Homo sapiens: one gene and its partner. The protein of the gene in region 2 interacts with the protein of the main gene of each other region in a biochemical or structural test. Each region holds a gene or a part of one and is shown on either strand. Other genes may lie near its edges.

Region 1 (3,817 bases), on a different chromosome or scaffold from region 2:
ACGGTCCCCCTCTCCACTTCGCTGAGGCCCCGCTTGGTTCTGCTGTGGCCCCCAGCTTATCGCCAGCTATAGTAGGGCATATATGGGTATATTTATGCTCCCCTAAACATACTCCTGTTATCCTCTCTGGATCTTTTGTTCCTGAGGTAGAGACCATGCTGTTGGTCTTCAGATCACCTCTGCCACCTGACTGCCAACTCAGGTCTCAGCTCACTGCTAGATACCTCCACCCACAGCCTGCAGTCAGGGTTGGGTGACTGGCATCCCTTGTGTCCCAGTTGAGGCAGTGGGAACAGGAGGGGTGGAGCCGGCTGCTGTTGTGATGATCATGTGCTGCCTTCCTGCGTTGGAGTGTTCCACTTGCCCATTGTTGGAGGCGAGGAGACTGTGCCACTGAGGCACCTGTGCCAGCCCCCACCCGAAGAAGGACGCCATGTGCGTCTTCTAACCCTCCTCCTCTTCCCGCCTGTAGGTCCCGCAGGCTCCCGATGGCGAGATTACGGCGCCCTGGCCATCATCATGGCAGGCATTGCATTTGGCTTTCACCAGCTCTACAAGGTGAGTCACCCCCAGCGGCTGCAGGTGCTGTGCCCCTGCCACCCTGTGGCATTCAGCACCCTTTCACTGGTTCCCCTGCATGGAGGCACTGCCGTGCTCTGCCCTGGAGTGTGTTGGCAGTGAGAGGCTGTGGTAGAGGTCGGGGTTCACAGCTGGATCCAGGCAGACCCTGCCCTGCTGTGGGGCTTGGCAGGCTCTGCCCACCTTTTCTCCAGTGCTCAGCATATACCACCCAGATCTCCACTTGCAGGGGCGTCGTGAGGTCTGTCCCTTGCCAGCCCATGTCAGGCACTTACAGTAGTGCCCGCACGGGGAAGCCGTGCGAGCAGTTTTGAGACACAGAATAACATAATGGCGAAGAGCATGGACGCTGGGCCAGCTGCTTTGCTGAGCCCTGGCTCTGCCCCTCAGGAGCTTGGTGATCACAGGCTCTGGTCTGTAAAATGGGAATAACAGTCCCCACTTCACAAGGTTGTCGTGAAGTCCGGAAGAGTCAGTCTCCCTTGTAGAGGACTCAGAGCCATGCCCGGCACATGGAAGTGCTTTATACACCATTGTTCTGCCACAGCATTTAAGAGCGGCGGTGAGAACCTCAGTGTCATCAGATGTATGGGAGCTGTTCTTTTTGCTCTGTCTGTTGTGCTGCCATCTATAGAAATCTAGGATTTCCCAGGCTTCTCAAGTCAACTTTCAGGATCCCAGGTTCATTGCTTGCAACAGAACTGCAGGCATGACGTGAACATTGACTCCCTTGTGAAGGCCCAACTTGGACGTGAAGCAAATGAGTCTAGAGTCTAGAAAATGCAGGCCAGGGTAGGTGCCCAGTCCAGATCTTGGGACCCTGTAGAGAAGCCTCTTTTCTTTCGAGGCTGCCAGCTCCTCCACCCCTGATTGGTGATTTTTTTTTTTTTTTTTTTGAGATGGAGTCTCGCTCTGTCACCTAGGCCGGAGTGCAGTGGCATGATCTCGGCTCACTGCAAGCTCCGCCTCCTGAGTTCAAGCAATTCTCCTGTCTCAGCTTCCTGAGTAGCTGGGATTATAGGCGTGCTGGTGCATGCCTGGCTAATTTTTGTACTTTTAGTAGAGATGGGGTTTCACTGTTGGCCAGGCCGGTCTCGAACTCCTGACCTCAGGTGATCCGCCCACCTCGGCCTCCCAAAGTGCCAGGATTACAGGCTTGAGCCACCGTGCCCGGCTGGTGATTTTCTTTTTTAAACAACCTGAATGAGCACTCAGACTCGCCATGGTCACTCTTAGCACATGAAACATGGTCAGCCATGGTATTCCAGATTCTTCATTTTTGATGTAATACAAAAGCTAATGACAGTTGTAGCAGAATATAATTTTTTAAGTGTAGCATGTATTCCTGGAGCTGGACATTTCCATGTTAGAAATTGAGAAACAAGGGCTGGGCGCGGTGGCTCACGCCTGTAATCCCAGCACTTTGGGAGGCTGAGGCTGAGGATCCTGACTTGATCACGAGGTCAGTAGATCGAGACCATCCTGGCTAACACGGTGAAACCCCGACTCTACTAAAAATACAAAAAATTAGCCCAGCATGGCGGCGGGCACCTGCAGTCCCAGCTACTGGGGAGGCTGAGGCAGGAGAATGGGGTGAACCTGGGAGGCGGAGCTTGCAGTAAGCCAAGATCATGCCACTGCACTCTAGCCTGGGTGACAGAGCAAGACTCCTTCTCAAAAAAGAAAAAGAAAAAGAAAAAGAAATTGAGAAACAAAACATCCTGGGTTGGCCCAGGTGCCGTGGCTCACACCTCTAATCCCAGTACTTTGGGAGGCCAGGGCAGGCAGATTGCTTGAGCCCAGAAGTTTGATATTAGCCTGGCCAACATGGTGAAACTGTGTCTCTACCAAACAATAAAATAAAATAAAATAAAATAAAATAAAATAAAATAAATAAGCTAGGCATGGTGGTGTGAGCCTGTAGTCCCAGCTATACTCGGGAGGCTGAGGGTGGTGGGAGGATCACTTGGGCTCGGGAGGTGGAGGTTGCAGTGAACTGAGATCACACTACTGCACTCCAGCCTCGGCAACAGAAGGAGACCCTGTCTCAATTTAAAAAACAAAATAAGCCAGGCGCAGTGGCTCATGCCTGTAATCCCAGGACTTTGGGAGGCTGAGGTGGGCGGATCACTTGAGGTCAGGAGTTTGAGACCAGCCTGGCCAACAAGGTGAAACCCTGTCTCTACTGATAATACAAAAATTAGCTGGGTGTCATGGCGTGCACCTGTAATCCCAGCTACTTGGGAGGCTGAGGCAGGAGAATCACTTGAGCCTGGGAGGCATAGGTTGCAGTGAGCCTGCAGTGAGCCGAGATTGTGCCACTGCACTCCAGCGTGGGTGAAAGAGCGAGACTTTGTCTCAAATAAATACATAAATAAACAGAACAGAACAAAAACACCTCTTGGGACCCGGTTCTTCTCCCTCTGAACTGGTGCCCCCTTCAAATCACTGACTGTATACAAGCACCAAGAAGAATGTGACACGAACGCCAGAGTCCTCAGATGAATGCCCTGGCTGTAATGAGCAGTAGGCACTGTCACATGGCCACCCATGGAGGGCCTGTGGCCTGACGGGAGCGGGAGGGCAGCTCGGCAGCCCGCCTTAGCGTGGGCACTCACACGGAGCTGCCACTTGTAGTTTCTACGAAGCTCTGGGCTCTCCGCTCTGTTTTAAAAAGAAAAGAAACATTGCAATATCAGTCACAATGGTAACAAGAGAATTTCTAAAGCATCTGCTCAGTTTCTCGAAATTAAAAAAAAAAAAAAAAAGAAATGGTAAAAAGCCCTCGACTGGCTTTATAAGCACGTGAAGACTTTGGCTAGGGCAGCGTGTCTGCTCCTGCCCTTAGGACTTCTGATCTCAGAAATGGGGTGTTTAGTTGGTTACACACACATATATGAATTCTTTTTTTTTTTTTTTTTTTTTTGAGACACAGTCTAACTCTGTTACCCGGGCTGGAGTGCAGTGGCATGATCTCTGCTCACTGCAGCCTCTGCCTCCCGGGTTCAAGCGATTCTCCAGCCACAGCCTCCCGAGGAGCTGGGATTACAGGCATGCGCCACCACACTCAGCTAATCTTTATATTTTTAGTAGAGACGGAGTTTCACTGTGTTGGCCAGGCTGGTCTCGAACGCCTGACCTCATGATCTGCCCACCTCAGCCTCCCAAAGTGCTGGGATTACAAGCGTGAGCCACCGCGCCCGGCCAAGAATTCTTTACCTTTCTTGCTGAGGACATT
Region 2 (3,817 bases):
TCCTCAGTAGATAGGCCTGGATATATGTTGAAAACATTGAATTCTGCTCTCCTACCTTTAGATTGGACCAAGGCCAGGCAAACCATAGGCTTGTGTTGCTGGCGAAAGAGAGACAAATAGCGAGGTAGAGACAGAAAGAGAGAGAGAGAGAGAGAAAGAGAAATGGCCCAATCAACGTGGCCCAATCAGACTCTTTCTTGGGAATCTGATGAACAAGAGAAGGGAGCTAACCATCGGAAGAGGAAGCCGAGATGAAAAGCCATCTATAGAAGTTCTGAGTGGCCATTTATGGGTTCTGCAAAGTTACAGGGGAGCCAAATGAGTAGATAATTAGAGAAAACCAGAAAATAGGTGAGAGTGAAGTAGACTGATAGAAAGAAGCAAAGGAACTACAAGAAGGAGAGATAATTTACAGTTCTAGTTCTCCCCAGACCTGGCTCTATCTTCACTTTCTGTTACTGAATTCCCCTACTGTGGCTTTACTATAAACCTGCTTGCTTAGGCTAGCTTGAATGGGTCTTGTTTCTTGAGACCAAATGCCTTAACCCAAATAGTCCTCATATGTTAGATATGCAGGTTTAGCCTTTAAAAAAATTGCCGTTTAGATGGAACCCAGGTACACCCAGTTGAACTAACAAGGTCATAAACCTTCTCTTTGCTTTTAAACCCCATTCCGTGCTTTGGAGCTGATTCCTGCCAGTGAGCTGGAAGAATCAAAATCATAATCTCTTGAAGTGATACCTTTCCTTAGTGCTAGGTGGGAAATCTTTCCAATGCCAAGCAGTTTTTGCTCTGATTGAACTTACCTGATGATGTTCCAGCTGCATCTTGTTCTGTTTCATGATATTCTCTTTTTCCAATAGCTCTTTCTGTTGCCTCTCAAACTCCTCCTTACCCTGTTAATTTTCAACATAAAGAACATATTATGTCATCACTGTGATTCACTTATGCTAACAATTTCATTGACGGATGAGTAAATACTCTTTATTTTCCACTGCCTTGGCAACATCTCAAATGCCCAGTGAGGCACTGTGAACCCTAGACGACAGGGGTGGCAGAAAAATAAAGCCCATTGCCATATAGGGTGCCAGCTTTCTGGGGCACCTTAAAATTTTCGGAGAGCTACTCATGATTCCCTTCAAATCTCATATATAATGTTCTTTTTATAGTCTCTGGGTTCTTTTCTCATAGATTATATGTGAACCTGTAAACCCCCAAATGCAGGTCTAAATGTGGTCCACCTCTCACTTCTAGTTCCCTCAAATCATCTATAGATTTCTGCTCCAAGGCAGTAGTTCCCACTGTGCAGGGTCAGACAACCAGTAAGATGAATGTTCAATGCCTCCATCCTCTCTCTCTCCACTTCCTTCCTCAGCATCAGGTGGGGCTCAGTTCTCCTTGCCACACTTTCTTGCGCTTGAGGGAATTTGGCATAATAGTTACGTAGTTCTCAGTATAATCTGTGACTCTCAGTCAAATTAAAAGAATGGCAGAATAAGATAGTAAGCCTAGTCCTAAACAATGGATCTTGGTAGATTTTTTTTTTTTTTTCTGAGACAGAGTCTCGCTCTGTCGCCCAGGCTGGAGTCCAGTGGCACGATCTTAGCTCACTGCAACCTCCGCCTCCCAGGTTCAAGTGATTCTTCTGCCTCGGCCTCCCAAGTAGCTGGGACTACAGGCGTGCATCACCATGCCTGGCTAATTTTCGTACTTTTAGTAGAGATGGGGTTTCACCATATTGGCCAGGCTGGTCTTGAACTCCTGACCTTGTGATCCACCTGCTTCAGCCTCCCAAAGTGCTGGGATTACAGGCGTGAGCCACTGCGCCCAGCCAGTAGAATGTTTTAATCCCTCAAAGTGGAAGGGAAAGCTGTCGGAATCCCAGGTCAACTTGGAGCTTGGTAGAATTCCCAATTGTAGGAGGCCAACTGTGACTATCCAATGTCCCATACACAGATTAAGCTCCTAGGACAGCTAGCTAATGCCCAGTGGTCCTCTAGGTAAGTCTGAGATGGGGCTAAGTTTTAAAGCAATTATACACACACATACACAGAGTAGGGCTAGCAGGGGCCTTAGAAATTCTCTGGTGCAAAGGTCTTCTATTCTTTTTCTTAATGACGAAAACTTTTTTTTCAAATAAAATATTGCATGGAACTATACATAAAACACAAATAGAAGTGGAGCTGGTATTATTATTAGAGGGCCTATTATCCTACTTGGTGAGTCTCCTCTTACCTGAGGTATATCAACGGGATCTAATCCAACCCCTTACCCCATTCATTTTGCAAATGAGGAAATTAAGGCCCAAGGAGGTTGAATAAGTTGGTCACACAGTAAACGTCAGAGAAAGGGCTAGATCTGAGTGAGTACTCAGGACTCTCAGCCCAGCGTTCTTACTACTCTACGACACTCCCTCCAATTTGTGAACCATGTAGATTAACATTAATTATGTTCTCTCCTTTGGCAGTCCAACCCGACATCCTTATAGGCATCTTTCTCAGGCTCCCTGCATGTGAGTGAGTGTAGGTGTTTTATGAGTTCCGCTGTTTTACCTGTAGGTGGACGTAATCGTAGTCATCCATCCAGCTCCTCTCAGAACCATCACTGCTGCTACAGTCAGGGGCCTGCTCCTTGCTCAGGCCTGGGGGCAGTGCCTTGTTGTGGGCCTGGGCCTTGTGGTCACCAGGATGCAGCAGCTGTCCCTGGGAGCCACCGTGTGGGTACTCCGTTGAGTTCATGATGCTCTCCGGCCCATTCTTCAGATGCAAGCTGCCAGGGCCGGGTCTGAAGAGGGCCTCTGCGTTGGTGTTGATGGTTGTGGTGAGCTGCTTGGCGTCATCGGGCACCGTCTTTGCCACCATCACAAACCGGTCCAGATCGTCACACTTGTTCTGGGGCTTGTTGATGGCCAAGATATTCAGGGACCAGCTGCACTCATTTAAGTCATGGCTGGTTTGACTCAGGATCTGGTGGGAGTCTTCAACTCGTTGCAGCTCCCGCTTCATCTTGTTGTGGAGGATGAGTTCCGGGAGGCAGGCAGCATTTGCAACAGCTCCCTTGACAAAGTGGAGGTACTCCTTCAGGAACAGCTCCACCTTGTCCACTGCTGTGCGTATTTCATTGATGTGTCTTTCCATATATCCGTAACACCGCCAGTCGGTAGTGACCAGTGCCATTAGGCTGGAGACACCCATCTCAAGGGCCTGCTGGAGCCGCTGAAGTCTCTCAATAGCTGTGTCTGGATCCAGGAAGAGCCTTTTGTCCTGAGCTGGGGAGGCTGACAGTGAGGACTCCTTGGAGGAGGTGGAAGACGTGGACATGTTACTCCGGGTGCTGCCTGTACTGGAGAAAGACAATCGGTTGATCCCATCCACCAAGTCCCGAGAGCCTTTAGCATCTGGCGGGTTATGCAGAGGGACATCATAAACACCATCCCTTTCCTGGGGGTTTGCTTTCTCACTGGTTTCTGCTGGTGGCTCAAGAAACTGAACGCCTCGGGGGACATCATATGCGTCGTTCTGAGAGCCCACTGACTGTCCGAGTTGCGGGGGTGGGTGATTCGGGGACAGGCTCTGGTGCCTTCGAGCCACCGGTTCTGCAGCTCCTGGAATGTCACAGTTGTATTTTACATGAAGGTCCTTCCCTGCTGGCTTGGTGCAGGTTGGAGGAATGTCATAAACCCCCTCCGGTCTGAGGTCCGGCCTTCCAGCTTGTCTCATGGGAGGGGGGAAGTCATAGTCTTTTTCCCTAAGCCCTGCTTCATCCCGGCAAGCAGAGGGCGGAATGGCATATACCTGCAAAGCAAGTAGAAAGCGAA

The links.
Region 1: the proteins of NEDD9 (region 2) and PEX14 interact in a test that uses a peptide from one of them, tested with the Homo sapiens proteins (one large-scale study listed by BioGRID and IntAct).

Annotation. Positions count from the first base shown.
Region 1 is NC_000001.11:10,617,860-10,621,676, forward strand, and holds part of PEX14 (peroxisomal membrane protein PEX14), read left to right. Parts: intron 1-472; coding exon 473-558; intron 559-3,817. UniProt on the Homo sapiens protein: Component of the PEX13-PEX14 docking complex, a translocon channel that specifically mediates the import of peroxisomal cargo proteins bound to PEX5 receptor.
Region 2 is NC_000006.12:11,187,412-11,191,228, forward strand, and holds part of NEDD9 (enhancer of filamentation 1), read right to left. Parts: intron 3,795-3,817; coding exon 2,553-3,794; intron 897-2,552; coding exon 807-896; intron 1-806. UniProt on the Homo sapiens protein: Scaffolding protein which plays a central coordinating role for tyrosine-kinase-based signaling related to cell adhesion. As a focal adhesion protein, plays a role in embryonic fibroblast migration.